Linked DNA regions of Homo sapiens. The protein of the gene in region 1 purifies or fractionates together with the protein of each later gene. This does not show direct contact. Each region holds a gene or a part of one and is shown on either strand. Other genes may lie near its edges.

Region 1 (3,652 bases):
TTTAGACTTGGCCATGCACAGCTGCTCTTGCCTGTAATCCCAACACTTTGGGAGGCCCAGGCGGGAGGATTGTCTGAGGCCAGGAGTTCAAGACAAGTCAGAGCAACATGGTAAAACCCATCACTACAAAAAACACAAAAATTAGCCAGGCATGGTGGCATGCACCTGTAATCCCAGCTACTCGGGAGGCTGAAGCAGGAGGATCCTCTGGGCCCAGGAGTTCGAAGCTGCTGTGAGCCATGATCACATCATCACTGCACTCCAGGGTGGGCAAGTGACCTAGACACTATCCCTAAAAAAAAAAGTTTAGGTTTATTCTAATAATAATTCTAATATAATGGGAGTGACATGAGCTAAACAAAGATATTAAGAAAACTCTCCTGATACAGAATGAACTGAGAAGAATGGATGAAACGAGAAGAATGTTCACAGTAACATGAAGTCTAGCTAATTAACCTGAAATGGTGATAGAAATGGAAAGAAATAAATATTAGCGTTAGCGGAAAAGAAATGTGATAAGGACTGAGTAGATGTAAATGTCAGGTGAAGTTTGGTCAGAGAAGGAGCAAAACACAAGGCCATCACTTTGAGAATGAAAATAATGATTACAGCTTTGGAAATTTAAGACAGTTAACCTAAACTTCCATTCCCTTCTGAGAGTTTCTCCATTTGTTCTAGTATCCTATTTTTTGACACTTTTTAAAAGCATTTTAAGAATTCCATTCACCTAGGGATTTTCATGACTTATTTCTATTAAGTATATATTAAATCAGTGGCATATTTTTTGAGTTTTTTTTTCATTACGGAATATCTTCATTTCATATACTTTTGAACTATAGTTTTCAGGACAAAACACTAAATAATCCATTACAGAGGTACCACATATAACAATAATTTTTCTTATTTATATTTAGAGTCCACCCATCTTTTTCAGATTCTTAGGTTCTTATTATTCCATAATGAATGCTTCTGTGCTTCTTGGTGGAATGGAACTTCCATAGGTTTAGAGAAAGAACAAAACACACATAATAATTTCTTGCACGGATTTTAATCTGACATCAGTAACTTCAGATCAAAATAATTCTGGAAAACCACCACCAATAACTAAGAGTAATTAATGTCTTCAAGAAATGTTTTTAGCCAATCTTTGTAAAGACAAAGTAGGAAAAACATCCACAAGATTTAAACCCAATTGTTCATAAAAACTACAAATAAACACAAATAAGCTGAAAGAATCTTTAGAAGATTCATCTTTTAAAATCTTCAAAATGCTGATAAAATGGCCAAGGAACAGAAACCAACACATAAATACCCAAGCAGAAGCTGATTTTTCACCAAAACAGGTCATTATGTGAGGTGGCCAGCGCCCCTGAATGCCAACTAAATTTCAATAAAGCATATGCTTTAAGTGGTAAGTGGCCCATGTTCTTTAATGAATAGACTGCTGTTAGAATTCTTCATATTGTAACCAAAATCCACCTTCATATTGTAACCAAAATCCATGCTCTTTAATATTAAGAGCATGTACTTTCAAATCAGCCTAGGGTTTGAATCCAAGCTGACCTTGGAACAAATCGCTTAAAACCTTTTAGAGCTCCCGTTTCCCAATCCATCAATGGGAATGTTTCCAACTATCACATGGATTTTGGTGGTCAATATATGTTAAATATTTATCAATGCCTGGCACACAGTAAAACACTACAAACGGTACCCTCCCCTCTTTTCAGCACACCCTCACATTTATTATAGGGCCAGTCAGCAAGATTACGTGACCTTCCACACCCCAACAGTCAAGTAGTAAAGAAAATACGGCAAACAGATTATACAGGGGAAAAAGTAAAGCTAAGAGGGAACTGATGAAAAGAAATGCATGAGCCGAGGACTGAAGATTCAAATGAAGACAAAGAACAAGTTGTGAAGTGGAAATCACTAAAATGAAAAGGATTTATTTATCTGACATCAAAAAAAGCTTCAGGCTGGATGTGGTGGCTCACACCTGTAATCCCTGGACTTTGGGAGGCTGATGCAGCAGGTGGATCATTTGAGCCCAGGAGTTTGACACCAGCCTGGGCAACATGGTGAAACCCTATCTCTATTTTCAGCTTATTTAAAATTGTTTTTCATCTTCATACCACGATTTCAATACTATTTTGAATGTGTATGCATTTCCTTGAAAATATCTACGCTGACAATTCATTAATATGTAAGTTCTGCATAGGCTGGGGAAATATTACACTGTTTCTTACAGCATTACACATGGTCTGTATTAAATATTTTGAATGAAGTTTGTAATACAAAGCCCACATTAATATTTTGTATGTTCAGTAAACTCCAGCATCCCTTCATTTACACCTATTCAACATTTATTAAGAGTGTACTTGTGCCAGATACAGTGCTGAGCACTAGAAATACAATGATGGATAAGACAGCCCAGTTGCCTTCATGGAACTCACAGCAGTCCATTCATTAAAGAACATGGGCCACTTACCACAAGTAATAAATTCTGAAAATAAATAAAACTTTTCCATTAATCTGTACAAGTGAGTTCAATTAACCGTTCCTAAAAAGTAACAATACACTTATTATATTTTAAAATCTTTAGATTTTTCCAATCAACTATTTTAGCTATTAATTCTAGGCCCTATGTTTTAAGCTGGACATTTGACAAACTAGATATAATGTGAAAAATCTGAAAACCGTATGAGTTTTTTAGTCTAGAAGACTCAGAAATCATGACAACTGTCTTTATATTTTAAAGGGTTAGCATACACGTGTGCTCTGTACCATTCCAAAGGGTTAAACTTGGAGCAATGGTTCGAAGGTGGATTTTGGTCACAATATGAAGAATTCTAACAATTTGGGATATTGAATAATTCAACGACCTTAAATATTTCTGTAAGGCTGCATGCTTTAAAAAGATAAATTTTCACTTAATCCTTGAAATAATCCAGAAAAACAAGTGTTTCCCTGTTACAGTTTAGGAAACTGAGTCTTCAAGGATCTTGCTAAAACACTCAAGTCCCAAATCTAGTGAACAGGTTGCCTCTAACTAACGTGCTTCCCACCTCTAGATGTATTTCAGGCACATACCAAATGGCCATCTGTCAGCAATGTTAGCCAAGACACCCTAAAGTTCCTTCCAAATTCAACTCTTTAGAAATACTGGTGGTCAATGTAAACACCATGAAAAGATTATGTGTTGAACGGTCCTCCAGAATGCAAGCTCTATGAGGGCAAGTAACTTTTTCTTTCCTGCTACATCCCAATACCTAAAACAGTATATGGCATACAATACAGGGTCAAAAAATACTTGCTAAATATGAATAGTCCTAGTCATACATACCACGATTATATATTTCATATATGTATATAAAAAATACATACCACTATTATACAATAAAGGATCTCGCTGAAGTATCCAGCAACTAAAAAACCTGATAAGTACAAAATCCATTCTTAAAATTGCATCAAGCACTTTAAATTGTTCAAGTGCTGAAACTTCAACCAACCAGTTTGCAAAACAAATTCAACTGCAAAAACTGCAAACCCTTTGGCAAAGTATTATAGTTAAAAGTAACATACAAAGTCTTACAAGATACAATGGCTAATTTTGATGAATGAGTTTTTCAATTCTTCGCTAAGGTATCAACTA
Region 2 (3,652 bases), on another chromosome or scaffold:
AAGCTCAAGAAGAGAAGAGACCTCTATTTAAATTTATTTCCAACAGTGGCCTCGATTTAGAAAGTAATAAAATCACCAGACAAACATTTGCTCTAATCTATTCTCCCCATCTTCATGAGGAGATAGAGGAAGAAAGCAAAAGAGGCTGTAAATGCAAATTTCACTAGCAAATAATAATTACTAGCTATCTTAAAATGTTCTATGTACTGTATCCTCAAAATAAAAAAACCACAAATCTTCAAATGACTCAGTGTTTGACAGATATTACATTTATTCTTAGAAACCTGACCATAAATAGCTTTGAAATAGTACAAAAGTATTTAAAAATTCTATTTCAGTTCCTTTAAAAACATAGCAATAGAAATATTAGCATCTTTCTTTGCAATTCTCCTGCCTCAGCCTCCAGAGTCGCTGGGATTACAGGTGCACACCACCACACCTGGCTAATTTTTTTTGTATTTTTAGTAAAGATGGGGTTTCACCATGTTGGCCAGGCCAGTCTTTAACTCCTGACCTGAAGCGATCCACCCACCTCAGCCTCCCAAACTACTGGGTTTACAGGTGTGAGCCACCACACCTGGCTGCATCTTTATTTTCAAATAAAAGATGAAAAAGCTATTTTTCTTCGTTTAATGAATAACTCAAGGCAAATGGAGAAAGTACTAACATTAGGAAACATATACAGCCAGGCACAGTGGCTCATGTCTGTAATCCCCGCACTTTGGAAGGCCGAGATGGGCAAATCACTTGAGGCCAGGAGTTTGAGACCAGCCTGGCCAACATGGCGAAACCCTATCTCTGCTAAAAATACAAAAATTAGCCACGCATGGTGGTGCATGCCTATAATCCCAGCTACTTGAGAGGTTGAGGCATGAGAATTGCTTGAACCCAGGAGGCAGAGGTTACAGTGAACTGAAATTGTGCCACTGCACTCTAGCCTGAGTGACATAGCTAGACTCTGCATCAAAAAAACAAAAAAGGTTGGGGGGGGCGGGGAGAAAGAATTTATATACAGCTATAATTTCTGAACTCTTATGTTTTCACTTCCTTCACTTAAAATATGTGTGATATCTTCATTCCTACTTTACCAGCAGGATATTATAAAACTGGATTTTAAGTCACTAGCATTTTTAAAATCCTATCACATAAATGAGTAAAATATTAAAATTTTAATGACAATGCATTTCAAAATACCTGCACCAATCATGGTGATTGGAGATTCAATATATATCCATTCATCAGTATATATTCCAGAATGAACAAAGATAAGTCCATCAAAATGAGCCTCTTGTACCCCACCAAGGGCATCTTCAATAGTATCATAATACTAGAAAAAAATAAATGTGTCAGTACAGAACTGAAAGATTACCATTTTAAGTCATAAAAATAAAAATCAAACATACCAACATATTTTCTCTTCCTTTATATCTTGCAGGGTTACTGTAGAAATGTTCAGCAAATCCTGGCTTTACATGTGCACCTTTATACTAAAATGTCAAAAACAAAACAAAACCATTGACTACTAACATAAACCTTATATTTAAATTAATGTACAATTGCATGAACAACTTTTATTACAAATCAAAAATAATTCTCAACTATTCCAAATAATTTTCTGTCAGAGTACAATGTAAAATCTAAAACAAGTTATGATCCGGTAATATCCAGAAACAAAGAACAGGGTTTCTCAATCTCAGCATTACTGATATTTTAAGTCAGTTAATTCTTTGTTATGGGGGCTGTCCTGTGCACTGTAGGATGTTTAGAGGTATCCCTGGCCTCACCCAGCCAAATAGCAGCAGCACACTCTCCTCCCATTGTGACAATCAAAAAATGTCTCCCGACATCGCCAAATGTCCCACAGAAAGCAAAATCATCTCCAGCTGAGACTCACTCACGAAGGGCCGTATAACAATTAAGCTAAATGTGGAACTTTAAAACAAATGCTGAACACTAATAATTTAAATACAAGTTCAAACAGACCCATTGAAATCACAACTGCTCTTAGGCTACTAATGCTTACTGTACTAACTTATTAATGGGGGGATATGTCAGTAGTGAAAAGAATTGCTGAATATTCTGTTGGTTGATAAATGTTCATTAAAACCTACTCAACTTTTTTTTTTTCCCTGAGACAAGAGTCTCACTCTGTCGCCCAGGCTGGAGTGCAGCAGTGCAATGTCAGCTCTCTGCAACTCTGCCTCCTGGGTTCAAGTGATTCTCCTGCCTTAGCCTCCGAAGTAGCTGGGACTACAGGTGTGCGCCACCATGTCCGGCTAATTTTTGTATTTTTAGAAGAGATGGAGTTTCGCCATGTTGGCCAAGCTGGTCTCGAACTCCTGACCTCAGGTAATCCTCCTACCTCGGCCTCCCAAGGTGCTGGGATTACAGGTGTGAGCCACCACGCCCAGCCTAAACTTATTTCTTAAAAGAAAGTTATTTACAAATGTATAATATAAACCAATATATTCTATTTATATTTCATACCAACTGCTGGAAACTCTCTTTCCAGGGATTTGGATGTTCATACTCTTCTGGATTAATCTGGTAGAATTTTCCAGGTTCAGGATGCATCATAGGGCGAGTATATTCAAATACTTCCATATATAATCGTTTCCTGAACAGAGAAAGGAATTAAAATTTTCTTGATAAAATGTCCTTTAGATTAATACAGTTTTGAACAACTATAACAATTATTTGAGGCCTCAAAAACTTGAGTAAGAAAGTAAGAATAGACAAAAATGAATATTAAATCACAGGATTTTTTTTTTGAGACACAGTCTCACTGTCATCCAGGCTAGAATGCAAGTGGCATGATCTTGGCTCACTGCAACCTCCCTCTCCCAGGTTCAAGCCTCAGCCTCCTGAGTAGCTGAGATTATGGGCATGTGTCACCACGCACAGCTAAAAACAGGATTTAAAACGTGAAAACGTATTTTTCACATTTAAAATTTTCAGTGTAGTTGCATATGGAAATTATGTTTTTTTCCTTTTTTTTCTTTGAGACATAGTCTATTTCTATCACCCAGGCTGGAGTGCAGTGCCACGATCTCAGTTCACTGCAACCTCTGCCTCCTGGGCTCAAATGATCCTCCCACCTCAGCCTCCCAAGTAGCTGGAACTACAGGCACATGTTACCCAGGCTGGTCTCGAACTCTGGAGCTCAAGTGATTTACCCACCTCAGCCTCCCTAAGTGCTGGGATTACAGGCGTGAGCCACCATGCCTGGCCGAAAATTAGTTTTCCTGCAAAAATTTTCACAATGTAACTGCGTATGAAAATTTGTCCACACAGAACAACAAAAAGTTTCAATTTCCTTACAAACTGTTTACTCAGGAAGGGGAAAAAAAGTTATCCTTACTGTAAAAACATCATGATTATCACTTAAAAAGATAATTTTCTTTCTTTTTCTTTTTGAGACAGAGTCTCACTCCCGTTGCCCACACTGGAGTGCAGAGGCGTGATCATGGCTCATTGCAGCCTTAACCTCCCAGGTTCAAGTGATCCTCTTGTCTTATTTTTTGATTTTTTTTTGTAGAAATGAGGTCCCAGTATGTTGCCCAGGCTGGTCTCAAACTCCTGGGCTCAAGTAATCTGCCCACTTCAGCCTCCCAAAGTGCTGGGATTATAGGCGTGAGCCACTTCGCCTAGC

The links. The genes of interacting proteins can lie anywhere in the genome.
Region 2: the proteins of CDK13 (region 1) and FBXO11 purify together in Homo sapiens (affinity purification with mass spectrometry; 3 studies listed by BioGRID and IntAct, with this or other methods). This does not show direct contact.

What each region holds. Positions count from the first base shown.
Region 1 is NC_000007.14:39,953,244-39,956,895, reverse strand, and holds part of CDK13 (cyclin-dependent kinase 13), read right to left. Parts: intron 1-3,652. UniProt on the Homo sapiens protein: Cyclin-dependent kinase which displays CTD kinase activity and is required for RNA splicing.
Region 2 is NC_000002.12:47,833,385-47,837,036, forward strand, and holds part of FBXO11 (F-box only protein 11), read right to left. Parts: intron 2,618-3,652; coding exon 2,488-2,617; intron 1,488-2,487; coding exon 1,404-1,487; intron 1,328-1,403; coding exon 1,195-1,327; intron 1-1,194. UniProt on the Homo sapiens protein: Substrate recognition component of a SCF (SKP1-CUL1-F-box protein) E3 ubiquitin-protein ligase complex which mediates the ubiquitination and subsequent proteasomal degradation of target proteins, such as DTL/CDT2, BCL6, SNAI1 and PRDM1/BLIMP1.